Linked DNA regions of Homo sapiens: region 1 is linked to region 2. Evidence: fine-mapped expression QTL. Tissue or cell type: left ventricle. Region 2 holds a variant in brackets; the other region holds the start of a gene. All regions are shown on one strand. Distances are between the middles of the regions.

Region 1 (5,402 bases), 130 kb before region 2:
GGGATGCTGAGAGCTGCGGGAGGGTGCAGGCCCGGGAGCCTTGTCCCCACCCAACAGAGTCAAAGGCGCAGAGAGAGACAGGCAGAACTGGGTGGGGGTGTGGTCGTCCCTAGAGCTGGGGGGGTGGGGAGTTGGGGGCCCAGACTCTAGTGCCGACTCTGCCCCTAATTGGCAGAGGGGCCTGGGGCCAGCTTAGCCCCTTTCTGGGCCTTGGTTCCCTTATCTGTCGTATAAGGGATTTGGATGATATGGCCTCTGGAGCTGGAGAGAGAGGAAAGAAAAGGCAGAGGTGAGATGACCAGGAAAGAGAAGGTGGGGAGAGTCCGTGGGCCACAGCAGTCCTCCCCGAGAGGCAGAGGGTGATGAGGGCATAGACCCTTCCACGCAGGACCCCTGGCACATTCACATCCTGCATCCCCCCTGCACTTGAATAGCGTCCCCCGAAAATTCATGTCCACCTGGAACCTGTCAATGTGACCTTTTTTTTTTTTTTTGAGATGAAGTCTCACTCTGTCACCTAGGCTGGAGTACAGTGGCTCGATCTCGGCTCACTGCAACCTCTGCCTCCCGGGTTCAACCGATTCTCCTGCCTCAGCCTCCCAAGTAGCTGGGATTACGGGTGCCCACCACAACATCTGTCTAATTTTTTTTTCTTCTTCTTCTTCTTTTTTGTTTTTGTATTTTCAGTACAGACAGGGTTTCACCATGTTGGCCAGGCTGGTCTTGAACTCCTGATCTCAAGTGATCCGCCTGCCTCGGCCTCCCAAAGTGCTGGGATTACAGGGGTGAGCCACCCCGCCCAGCCTCAATGTGACCTATTTAAAAATAGTTCCTTTGCATATGTAATCGAGTTAAGAGGTCATACTGGTTTAGGGTTGGTCCTAAATCCAATACGACCAGTGTTCTCATAAGAGGAGAGAAATATAGACACAGAGACGGAGACACACAGAGGAGTCCACGTGAAGTTGGAGGCAGAGATTGGAGTGATGCAAGCCAAGGAATGCGAGGAGCCACCAGAAGCTGGAAGAGGCAAGAAAGAACCCTCCCCTTGCGCCTTCAGCAGGAGCGTAGCCCTGTAGCACCTTGGTTTCAGGTTTCTAGTCACCAAAACCAAGACAGAACAAACGTCTATCGTGTGAAGCCACCCACAATTTGGTGGTAATTTGTTATTGCAGCCCTAGGCAATGAATACACCATCTAATCCTCAGAAGAGGCAGCCTGTGATCCCCTTCCACAGATGTAAGGAAGACTGGGGCTCAGAGACGGTCAGTGACTTGGCCAAGGCCACACAGTAAAGCTGTGGCAGAGTCTGGTGTAGAATCAACGAATCAGAGACCTCAGTGGGAATCCACTCAACCCCTTGTGATTTGCAGCTTGTGGCCTTGGGCAATTTGCTCTCCAAGACTTGGGTTTTGTGTGTGGGTATATGAGACAAGGTCTCACTCTGTTGCCCAGGCTGGAGTACAGTAGTGCAATTACGGCTCACTGTAGCCTCGACCTCCTGGGCTCAAGTGATCCTCAGCCTCCCAAGGCTGAGGAGTGTGCCGCTACCCCCACTAATTTTTTAAGGCAAAGCGTAGTGGCATGCACCTGTAGCAGAAAAGGTCTCACTATATTGCCCAAGCTGAGATTTTTTTTTATCTCTATAAAGATCAATGGAGGCCAGGCACAGTGGCTCACACCTGTAATCTCAGCACTTCGAGAGGCCAAGGCAGGAGGATCCCTTGAACCCAGGAGTTTGATATCAGCCTGAGCAACATAGTGAGACCTCATCTCTACGAAAAATAAGAAATAAGCTGGGTGGGGTGGCTCACACCTGTAATCCCAGCACTTTGGGAGGCCAAGGTGGGCGGATCACCTGAGGTCAGGAGTTCGAGATCAGCCTGACCAACATGGTGAAACCCTGTCTCTACTTTAAAAATACAAAAATTAGGCCAGGAGCAGTGGCTCACACCTGTAATCCCAGCACTTTGGGAGGCCAAGGCAGGTGGATCACCTGAGATCAGGAGTTCAAGACCAGCCTGACCAACATGGAGAAACCCCATCTCTACTAAAAATACAAAATTAATCGGGTGTGGTGGCCCATGCCTGTAATCCCTGCTACTCAGGAGGCTGAGGCAGGAGAATCGCTTGAACCTGGGAGGTGGAAGTTGTGGTGAGCCGAGATCGTGCCATTGCACTCCAGCCTGGGCAACAGAAACTCCATCTCAACAAAAAAAAAAAAATTAGCCAGGTGTGGTGACACATACCTGTAATCCCAGCTACTTGGGAGGCTGAGACCAGAGAATTGCTTGAACCCAGGCAGCAGAGGTTGCAGTGAGCTGAGATCGGGCCACTGCACTCCAGCCTGGGCAACAGAGCGAGACTCCATCTCAAAAAAAAAAAAAAAAAGAGAAAGAAAAGAAACAAACAAAATTAGCCAGTGTGGTAGTGAGTGCCTGGGGTCCCAGCTACTCAAGAGGCTGAGGTGGGAGGATCATTTAAGCCAAGGAGGTCAAGTCCGTAGTGAGTTATGATTGCCACCACTGCACTCCACCTGGTGACAGAGCAAGATGCTGTATTGTTGTTGTTGTTTTGAGATGGAGTCTCACTCTTGTTGCCCAGGCTGGAGTGCAATGGCACAATCTCGGCTCACCATAACCTCTGCCTCCCAGGTCCAAGTGATTCTCCTGCCTCAGCCTCCCCATTAGCTGGGATTACAGGCATGTGCCACCAGGCCTAGCCAATTTTGTATTTTTTTAGTAGAGACGGGGTTTCTCCATGTTGGTCAGGCTGGTCTCAAACTCCCAACCTCAGATGATCCACCAGCCTCGGCCTCCCAAAGTGCTGGGATTACAAGCAGGAGCCACCACGCCTGGCCCAAGATGCTGTTTTTTAAAAAAAGACCTCTGTCCAACTTCTTTGCTGCACAGATGGGGAAACTGAGGCCCAGAGAGGGACAGCAATGGTTTTCCCTAAAAGCCCCCACCCAGGCAAAGACAAAGATGAACAGAGTGGGGCAGGCAGCAGGGGGCTAGTGTCCTCACCGTCATGGTGACAGCTCCTGGCGGCAGCTCCCAGCGGCTCCTGGAGGCCTGTGCTCAGGGTCTCAACTCGTGGTCAAGCTTATATCCTAGAATATTACACATTAACTCCCTCAAGGTCCTAGGTGAGGACTTTGCCCCTTCTACCTTGTGTCTCCCCGCCTGCATCTCCCAGTACCCAGCACAAACAGGCAGAAGACTCCTCAGCCAGCTCCACCCCACCCAGCCCGGAGCATCCTCCTGGCCTCCCTCCAGCCCAGCCTCCCCCTCCTCAGCGCTCCCAGAGCCCGAGAGGGGAAGCAGCCCCAGCTCTGCCCCCACACAAACCGCAATGCAGCCGCTTGACAGCTCTCCCAGCCTCCCTCACTTAGCCCAGCTTCCTTGCCTGTAAAAAGAGAGATTTGCTTTGCAAAAAAAAAAAAAAGTCTAGGTTTCTAATTTTCTTTTTTTTTTTTTTTTGAGACAGAGTCTCACTCTGTCACCCAGGCTGGAGTGCAGTGGCAACGATCTCCGCTCAATGCAATCTCCTGGGTTCACACCATTCTGCTGCCTCAGCCTCCCGAGTAGCTGGAACTACAGGCACCCGCCACCATGCCCGGCTAATTTTTTGGTATTTTTAGTAGAGACGAGGTTTCACCGTATTAGCCAGGATGGTCTCGATCTCCTGACCTCGTGATCTGCCCACCTTGGCCTCCCAAAGTGCTGGGATTACAGGCGTGAGCCATTGCGCCTGGCCTAAGGTTCTAATTTTCTATGATGTTATGATTCATTGTCAGAGAGCATTATGTTTTCTTCTTCCCTCCCCATATTATTTATCTGATCGGACATGTAGGTTTCAAAACCAATACACGGATTCAAAGAAAAGATTTCAAACTATTTACAACAAATGGTCAAAAGCAGAGGAGAGCTGGGCGCGGTTGCTTAAGCCTGTAATCCCAGCACTTTGGGAGGCCAAGGCAGGCGGATCACCTGAAGTCAGGAGTTTGTGACCAGCCCGGCCAACATGGTGAAACCCCATCTCTACTAAAAATACAAAAATTAGCTGGGCGTGGTCGCACCTGTAGTCACAGCTGCTCAAGAGGCTGAGGCAGGAGAATCGCTTGAACCCGGGAGGTGGAGGTTACAGGGAGCTAAGATCGCGCCACTACACTCCAGCCTGGGCGACAGAGTGAGGCTCCGTCTCAAATAAAAAAATAAAAAATAAATAAAAGTGCAGAAGGAGTGGGAGGGCTGAGTGGGGGACATGGAGGATGAAAATGCTTTGCTCTTGACTTCTGTTACTTATGTAACTGGCATGCTTACTATAGACAATTAGAGATATTAAATAAAAAGAAAAATAATCACTCATAATGCCACCGCCACGAGGGAACTGGCTTACGCTGTTGGCACATTTCCTTCCAGGCGGTTCTCCACAGATTTACATTATAGACACCCCTCTGTCTGTGCAATTGTTTATCTCTCTTCATTTGGGAAACATTAAAGACCACAAATCTATATTTCAGAACCATACTTTAATGCCTGCGAAATAGTCTACCTTTCAACGACTGAATTTATTTAACCAATTTCCTTCTGCTGAACACTCACATTAATTCTACATTTTTGCTATTAAAAATACTGCTGCATTAAATCTATTTGGACATAAACTTTGGCTGCATCGTGACAACTTATGTAGGGCAGATTCCCAGAAGGAGAACTTTTCTAGAGCTCAGGATTTGGCGAGCCAGAGCGTTTTCCATCAGAGTTGGCGGTGGCCACTCCGGGCAGGATGTGGGGAACTGGCCTTGCCGAGGGCCCTCGGTGCCAGGAGTCTGCAGGTGGCTCACTGCCCAGTGCCCACATAGGACACCACCTTCAGTCCCCTGCCAGCCCGGAGTGAGGAGTGACTTCCTCCTTTCACCCACAAGGAAATTAATCCTCTCTCGGCCTTTCTCCCAAAGGCATGGTAAAACCCCAGTGAGATAAGGAATTTTAAAAGGCTTTCTCCCTGGAAACTAATCAACAGAAACTATACCTTTTAAAGGTGGCATTTTTCTGATTATAATAATAATATTATCTCACTATAGGAGGTTCCAGAAAGTACACACAGTAAAAGGAACTTAAAGTTCACTTGTTTTAAAATAATGTTCAAAAGCAGGGGAAAATGACCATGCATATCATTTACGTACTTTGCTGCGTATATATTTTATACCAATGAAAGATTTAAAAAAAGAAAAAAGAATGGCTGGGCATGGTGGCTCACCCCTGTAATCCCAGCACTTTGGGAAGCTGAGGTGGGTGGATCGCTTGAGTCCAGGAGTTCGAGACCAGCCTGGGCCACATAGTGAGACCCTATCTCTACTAAAAATTTTTTTTAATTAGCCAGGCATGGTGGCACATGCC
Region 2 (5,341 bases):
TGATGGGGAAATCATGATAAATCAGAAAGGCACAGCCAGGCACAGTGACTCACTCCTGTAATCCCAGCACTTTGGGAGGCCAAGGTGGGTGGATCACTTGGAGTTTGAGACCATCCTGGCAACATGGCAAAACCCCATCTCTACAAAAAATTTAAAAAATTAGCTGGGCGTAGTGGGATGCGGCTATAGTCTCAGTTACTCAGGAGGCTGAGGTGGGAGAATCACCTGAGACTGGGAGGCGGGGGCTTCAGTGAGCCGTGATCGCATTACTGTATTTCAGCCTGGGTGACAGAGTTGGACCCTGACTCAGAACAGAACAGAACAGAACAGAACAGAACAGAACAGAACAGAACAGAACAGAACAGTACAGAAAACAGGGAGAAGGAGGGGAAGGGGGAGGGGAAGGGGGAGGGGGAGAGAGAGGAGGAGAGGAGGAGAGAGGGACACATCCCTGGCTTGTCTTCATGGGGCTTATATTCTAGCAAGAGAAATGCACATGATTATTTAATCTTGGTTGTGATAAATGTATAAAGGAACAGTAAGTGGCATGAAGGTAAAGGATAGGGCATTAGGGAAAGTTTCTCCAAAAAAAAAAAAATGACATTTCAGCTGCTTAGTAAAGGCTGTGCAGGCATTAGCATTAGTGAAATTGCAGGAAGAGGAGAGGAAGGAAGGAGAATGTGCAAAGGCCAGCCTGGCACGGCAGCTCACGCCTGTAATCCCAGCACTTTGGGAGGAAGTGCTTGGATTGAGGCACCGAAGCAGGAAGATCACTTGAACTCAGGAGTTTGAGACCAGCCTGGGCAGCACAGTGAGACCCCATTTCTACCAAAAAAAAAAAAAAAAAAATTAGCCAGGCAGGATGGTGCACACCTGTAGTCCCAGCTAGTCAGAAGGCTGATGTGGGAGGATTACTGGATCCCAGGAGTTCAAGGTTGCAGTGAGCCATGAGCATGCCAATGCACTCCAGCCTGGGCAACAGAATGAGACCTTGTCTCAAAAACAAAACAAACAAACAGGTCAGGTGCAGTGGTTCATGCCTGTAATCTCAGCACTTTACGAGGCCGAGACGGGTGGATCACCTGAGGTCAGGAGTTCAAGACCACCCTGGCCAACATGGTGAAACCCCATCTCTATTAAAAATACACAAATTAGCTACATGTGGTGGTGGGTGCCTGTAATCCCAGGTACTTAGGAGGCTGAGGCAGGAGAATCTCTTGAACCCAGGAGGCAGAGGTTGCAGTGAGCCAAGATTGCACCACTGTACTCCAGCCTGGGCAACAGAGCGAGAATCCTCTCAAAACAAAACAAACAAACAAAGAATATGCAAAGGCCCTGAGGCAGAAAGGAGGCTGCACATCGGGCTGGAGAGGACAGGCAAGAGGGGGGCACAGAGGAGCTATAGGACAAGGATGGAGAATGGGGGGAGGCCTGGTCTCACTGGCCTTGTGCGGCTTTGTGGACATGTTGAGGACTTAGGATTCTGAGGTTTTTTTCTGTTTTGTTTTTGTTTTTTTTTGAGATGGAGTCTCGCTCTGTCGCACAGGCTGGAGTGCAGAGGCGTGATCTCGGCTCACTGCAACCTCTGCCTCCCAGGTTCAAGCGATTCTCCTGCCTCAGCCTCCCAGGTAGCTGAGACTACAGGCATGTACTACCAAACCCAGTTAATTTTTGTATTTTTAGTAGAGATGGGGTTTCACCATGCCGCTCAGGCTGGTCTTGAACTCCTGGCCTCAAGCAATCTGCCCTCCTTGGCCTCCCAAAGTGCTGAGATTACAAGTGTGAGCCACCTCGCCCGGCCAAGCCACGGAAGATTTCAAATAAGGGAGTGACGTGCTCTGATTTGCATTTTTCACAGTCACTCTGATTGCTGGGCAGAGAGAATGGAGGGCAGGGTGGTGAGAGTGAATCAGGTGACCCGCCAGGAAAAGGTGCACGTACTCATCGGTGCCAGAGATGATTGGGGCTTTGAGATGGAGGCAAATGGACACATTTCCGAACTAATTGAGCAGGCACGTCTACAGGATTTGGGGGTGAGGGAGGGGAGAAACCCATGGCTGACTCCTGTAATTTCTTCAGGCAGGGTACTTGGGTTGGGAGGTCTGTTTGGAGTTGTCTGGGGCATGGTGTGGGGTGTCGGCAGGATACAGTGGAGATGAGGGGGAAGTTAGTGAATTGGTGGGGCTGGAGCTCAGAGCCAGACCATCACAGGAGATGGA[G/A]GCCTGCGAGTCTTCAGGATCTGTCACTGACCAAAGTCTTGCTCACGGATGAGCCTATCATCTGTGGAAGAAAGTGTGGAATGAGATGAGAACAGGCCTGGGTGGAGGCCAGGGAATCAGCAGAGACAGCCAAGAAGGCCAGAGGCTAGGAGGCAAACCCCACAGTGTGCCCCTCCTCCCCAGGAGCCAAGACCAGAGATGGTTTCAAGAGAGGGGGCCAGGCACAATGGCTCCCGCCTGTGATCACAGCACTTTAGGAGGCTGAGGCTAAAGGATGGCTTGAAACCAGGAGTTTAAGACCAGCCTAGTTAACAAAGTGAGATCCCATCTCTACAAAACAAAAAATGAACTGGGTGTAGTGGTGCATGCCTGCAGTCCCAGCTACTTGGGAGGCTGAGGCAGGAGGATTGTTTGAGCCCAGGAGATTGAGGCTGCAGTGCACTGTGATCATGCCACTGCCACAGCAAGACTATCTTAAAAAAAAAAAAAAAAGATCAGAGAGGGGCACGACATCAAATCCTCCACTTTCTTGAGCTTCCAGTTGCTCTGATGATGATCAAGGCTGTGAAACTCTCCTTTGGCAAATGCATGAGGGGTGACTGTTGTGTCTCCGAGCCAGGCCCTGGGACCCAACTCTGGGCAGGTAGCAGCTCCCTGTGTATACCAGATGTGATAGTAAAAAACTGACACTGGGCCGGGCGCGGTGGCTCACGCCTGTAATCCCAGCACTTTGGGAGGCCGAGGCGGGTGGATCACTTGAGGTCAGGAGTTTGAGACCAGCCTGACTAGCATGGTGAAATCCTGACTCTACTAAAAATACAAAAATACAAAAATTAACAGGGTGTGGTGGCGGATGCCTGTAATCCCAGCTACTCGGGAGGCTGAGGCAGGAGAATTTCTTGAATCCGGGAGGCGGAGGTTGCAGTGAGCCGAGATCTGGCCACCGCACTCCAGCCTGGGCGACAAGAGCGAAAAACTCCATCTCAAAAAAAACAAAAAAACCTCCTGGGCCCCAGAAGATGGCAACTGCCTCTTCCAGCCTCTTCCACCTGCCTGCCTGTGCACTCCTCTGCCACTCTGGACCTATTCCATGGTGCCACGTGGTCAGGCATTGAAGGAATGGGTGGGTTTTTTTTCCATCACCCTCAGATGCTGCTGCTGGGGTTGGGGCGGGTCTTCCCTGGCTGACTCTGTCTGCCTCACCCACTCTCTCCCCATCTCTCTGTCACCACAGGTCTCCAGGGACCAAATTTAGCCCATTTTTCCTCCAAGGATTCTGGACCCTTGGCCATATTTGCCTCTAGCTTTAGGTCAACAGATTTCTAACATGGAGTCAAAAAATCTGTATGTTTAAAAAAAAAAAATTGGCTGGGAGTGGTGGCTCACGTCTGTAATCCCAGCACTTTGGGAGGCCGAGGCAGGTGGATCACCTGAGGTCAGGAGTTCGAGACCACCCTGGCCAACATGGTGAAACCCCGTCTCTACTAAAAATACAAAAATTAGCTGGGTATGGTGGCGGACCCCTGTAGTCCCAGCTACTCAGGAGGCTGAGGCAGGACAATTGCTTGAACCCGGGAGGCAGAGGTTGCAGTGAGCTGAGATCGCGCCATTGCACTCCAGCCTGGGTGACAGAGTGAGACTCTGTCTCAAAAAAAAGAAAAAAAAAAAAAAGGCCGGGCGTGGTGGCTCACGGCTGTAATCCCAGCACTTTGGGAGGCCGAGGCGGGCGGATCACGAGATCAGGAGATCGAGACCATCCTGGCTAACACGGTGAAACCCTGTCTCTACTAAAAATACAAAAAATTAGCTGGGCATGGTGGCGGGCGTCCATAGTCCCAGCTACTCGGGAGGCTGAGGCAGGAGAATGGCATGAACCCGGGAGGCGGAGCTTGCAGTGAGCCAAGATCACGCCACTGCACTCTAGCCTGAGCGACAGAGTGAGACTCCGTCTCACAAAAAAAAAAAAAAAAAAAAATTGAGGCCAGGCACAGTGGCTCATGCCTGTGATCCCAGCACTTTGGCCGAGGCAGGCAGATCACCTGCCATCAGGAGTTCGAGACCAGTCTCGCCAACATGGCAAACCCCTGTCTCTACTAAAAATAGAAAAATTAGCCGGGCATGGTGTCGGGCACCTGTAATCACAGCTACTGGGGTGGCTGAGGCAGAAGAATTGCTTGAACCCAGGAGGCGAAGGTTGCAGTGAGCCGAGACTGCACCATTGCACTCTAACCTGGGCTATAAGAGCGAGACTCTGTCTCAAAAAAAAAGCCCTTTACAAATATTAACTCGTTTAATTCTCAGAACACCCCTAGGAGGTGGGTCCTGCTATCCTGCCGGTTTTGTAGATGAGGTAACTGAGGCACAGAGAGGATAAGTCACGTGGCCCAGGTCTTGGTCGCTTCTCAGCCTCCATTTCCGAGAGGAGAAAACAATGCTCCGAAAGGGGAAGTCATCGGCCTGAGGTCACCAGCCGGGAACCGGAGGAGCCAGGATGGGGCCCGAGGTCCATCTGAGGCCAGAGCCAGTGCTGACCCGCCAGACAGGAAATCAGAGCTGGGGACTGACCGTGGGGCCCACTCAAGTGGGTGGTGTGGGGTGGTGACGGGGGCTGGGGTGAAAGCCAGGATGAGGTGTCACATTAGGCTAGGGTTCCTGCTGGGCCTGGCGGGGCAGAGACCCCTGGTTGATGCCTGGCAAGTCTCTCCTCATTTCTGCTGTGCTGTCCCCTGGGTGGCCAAGGCGCCAGGCCCGGCTGTGGATCTGACACCTCCTGCTGCCGAGCTCTGATCAGAATCTGGCTGCAGGGCAGGGGGTGAAACTGAATCCCACCAGGCCTCCCCTGGCCTGGATGTCACGGCAGACATCCCAACCCCACTTCTTGGCACTGCCTGACCCCAGCAGTGGCCTTCTTGGAACCTGGAGAGCCTGTGCCCACCCTGTGGTGCCGACCAGGCTGCTGCCTTGGCCCTGGGCTCTGGGCTCCAGGGTCCCCAGGGATCCCAGGCCCAGGCTCTTGCCCCTCCCGGCTCTCAGGTGAGCTGCTGGGATCGGGTTCCTGCGGTTTCATGTCTTTCATTGTTCTTGGCTGGGGCCCGGCTTATGAAACTGTAATGAGGGGCCCC

Alleles and levels. Alleles are on the strand shown, and positions count from the first base shown. SD is a standard deviation of normalised expression in the study named.
With allele G in place of A in region 2, the expression in left ventricle of the gene that starts at base 3,214 in region 1 is lower (large effect, 0.77 SD a copy in GTEx).

Evidence for each region. PIP is the estimated chance that this variant, and not a neighbour inherited with it, causes the effect.
Region 1: LGALS2 starts here. The variant in region 2 is the best candidate, but not a certain one, in a credible set for the expression of LGALS2 in left ventricle (GTEx, PIP 0.74).

What each region holds. Positions count from the first base shown.
Region 1 is chr22:37,576,874-37,582,275 of GRCh38, forward strand. LGALS2 (galectin 2) reads right to left here and starts at 3,214. Exons shown (of 4, transcript NM_006498.3): 1 at 3,027-3,214. The coding sequence starts at 3,032. RefSeq lists a silencer at 3,541-3,600.
Region 2 is chr22:37,704,075-37,709,415 of GRCh38, forward strand. The region is part of intron 3 of TRIOBP (TRIO and F-actin binding protein); the gene reads left to right. Among named protein-coding and RNA genes, the nearest start is that of TRIOBP, 9.7 kb to the left of the region's middle. The variant G/A (reference allele first, on the strand shown) is at 2,220.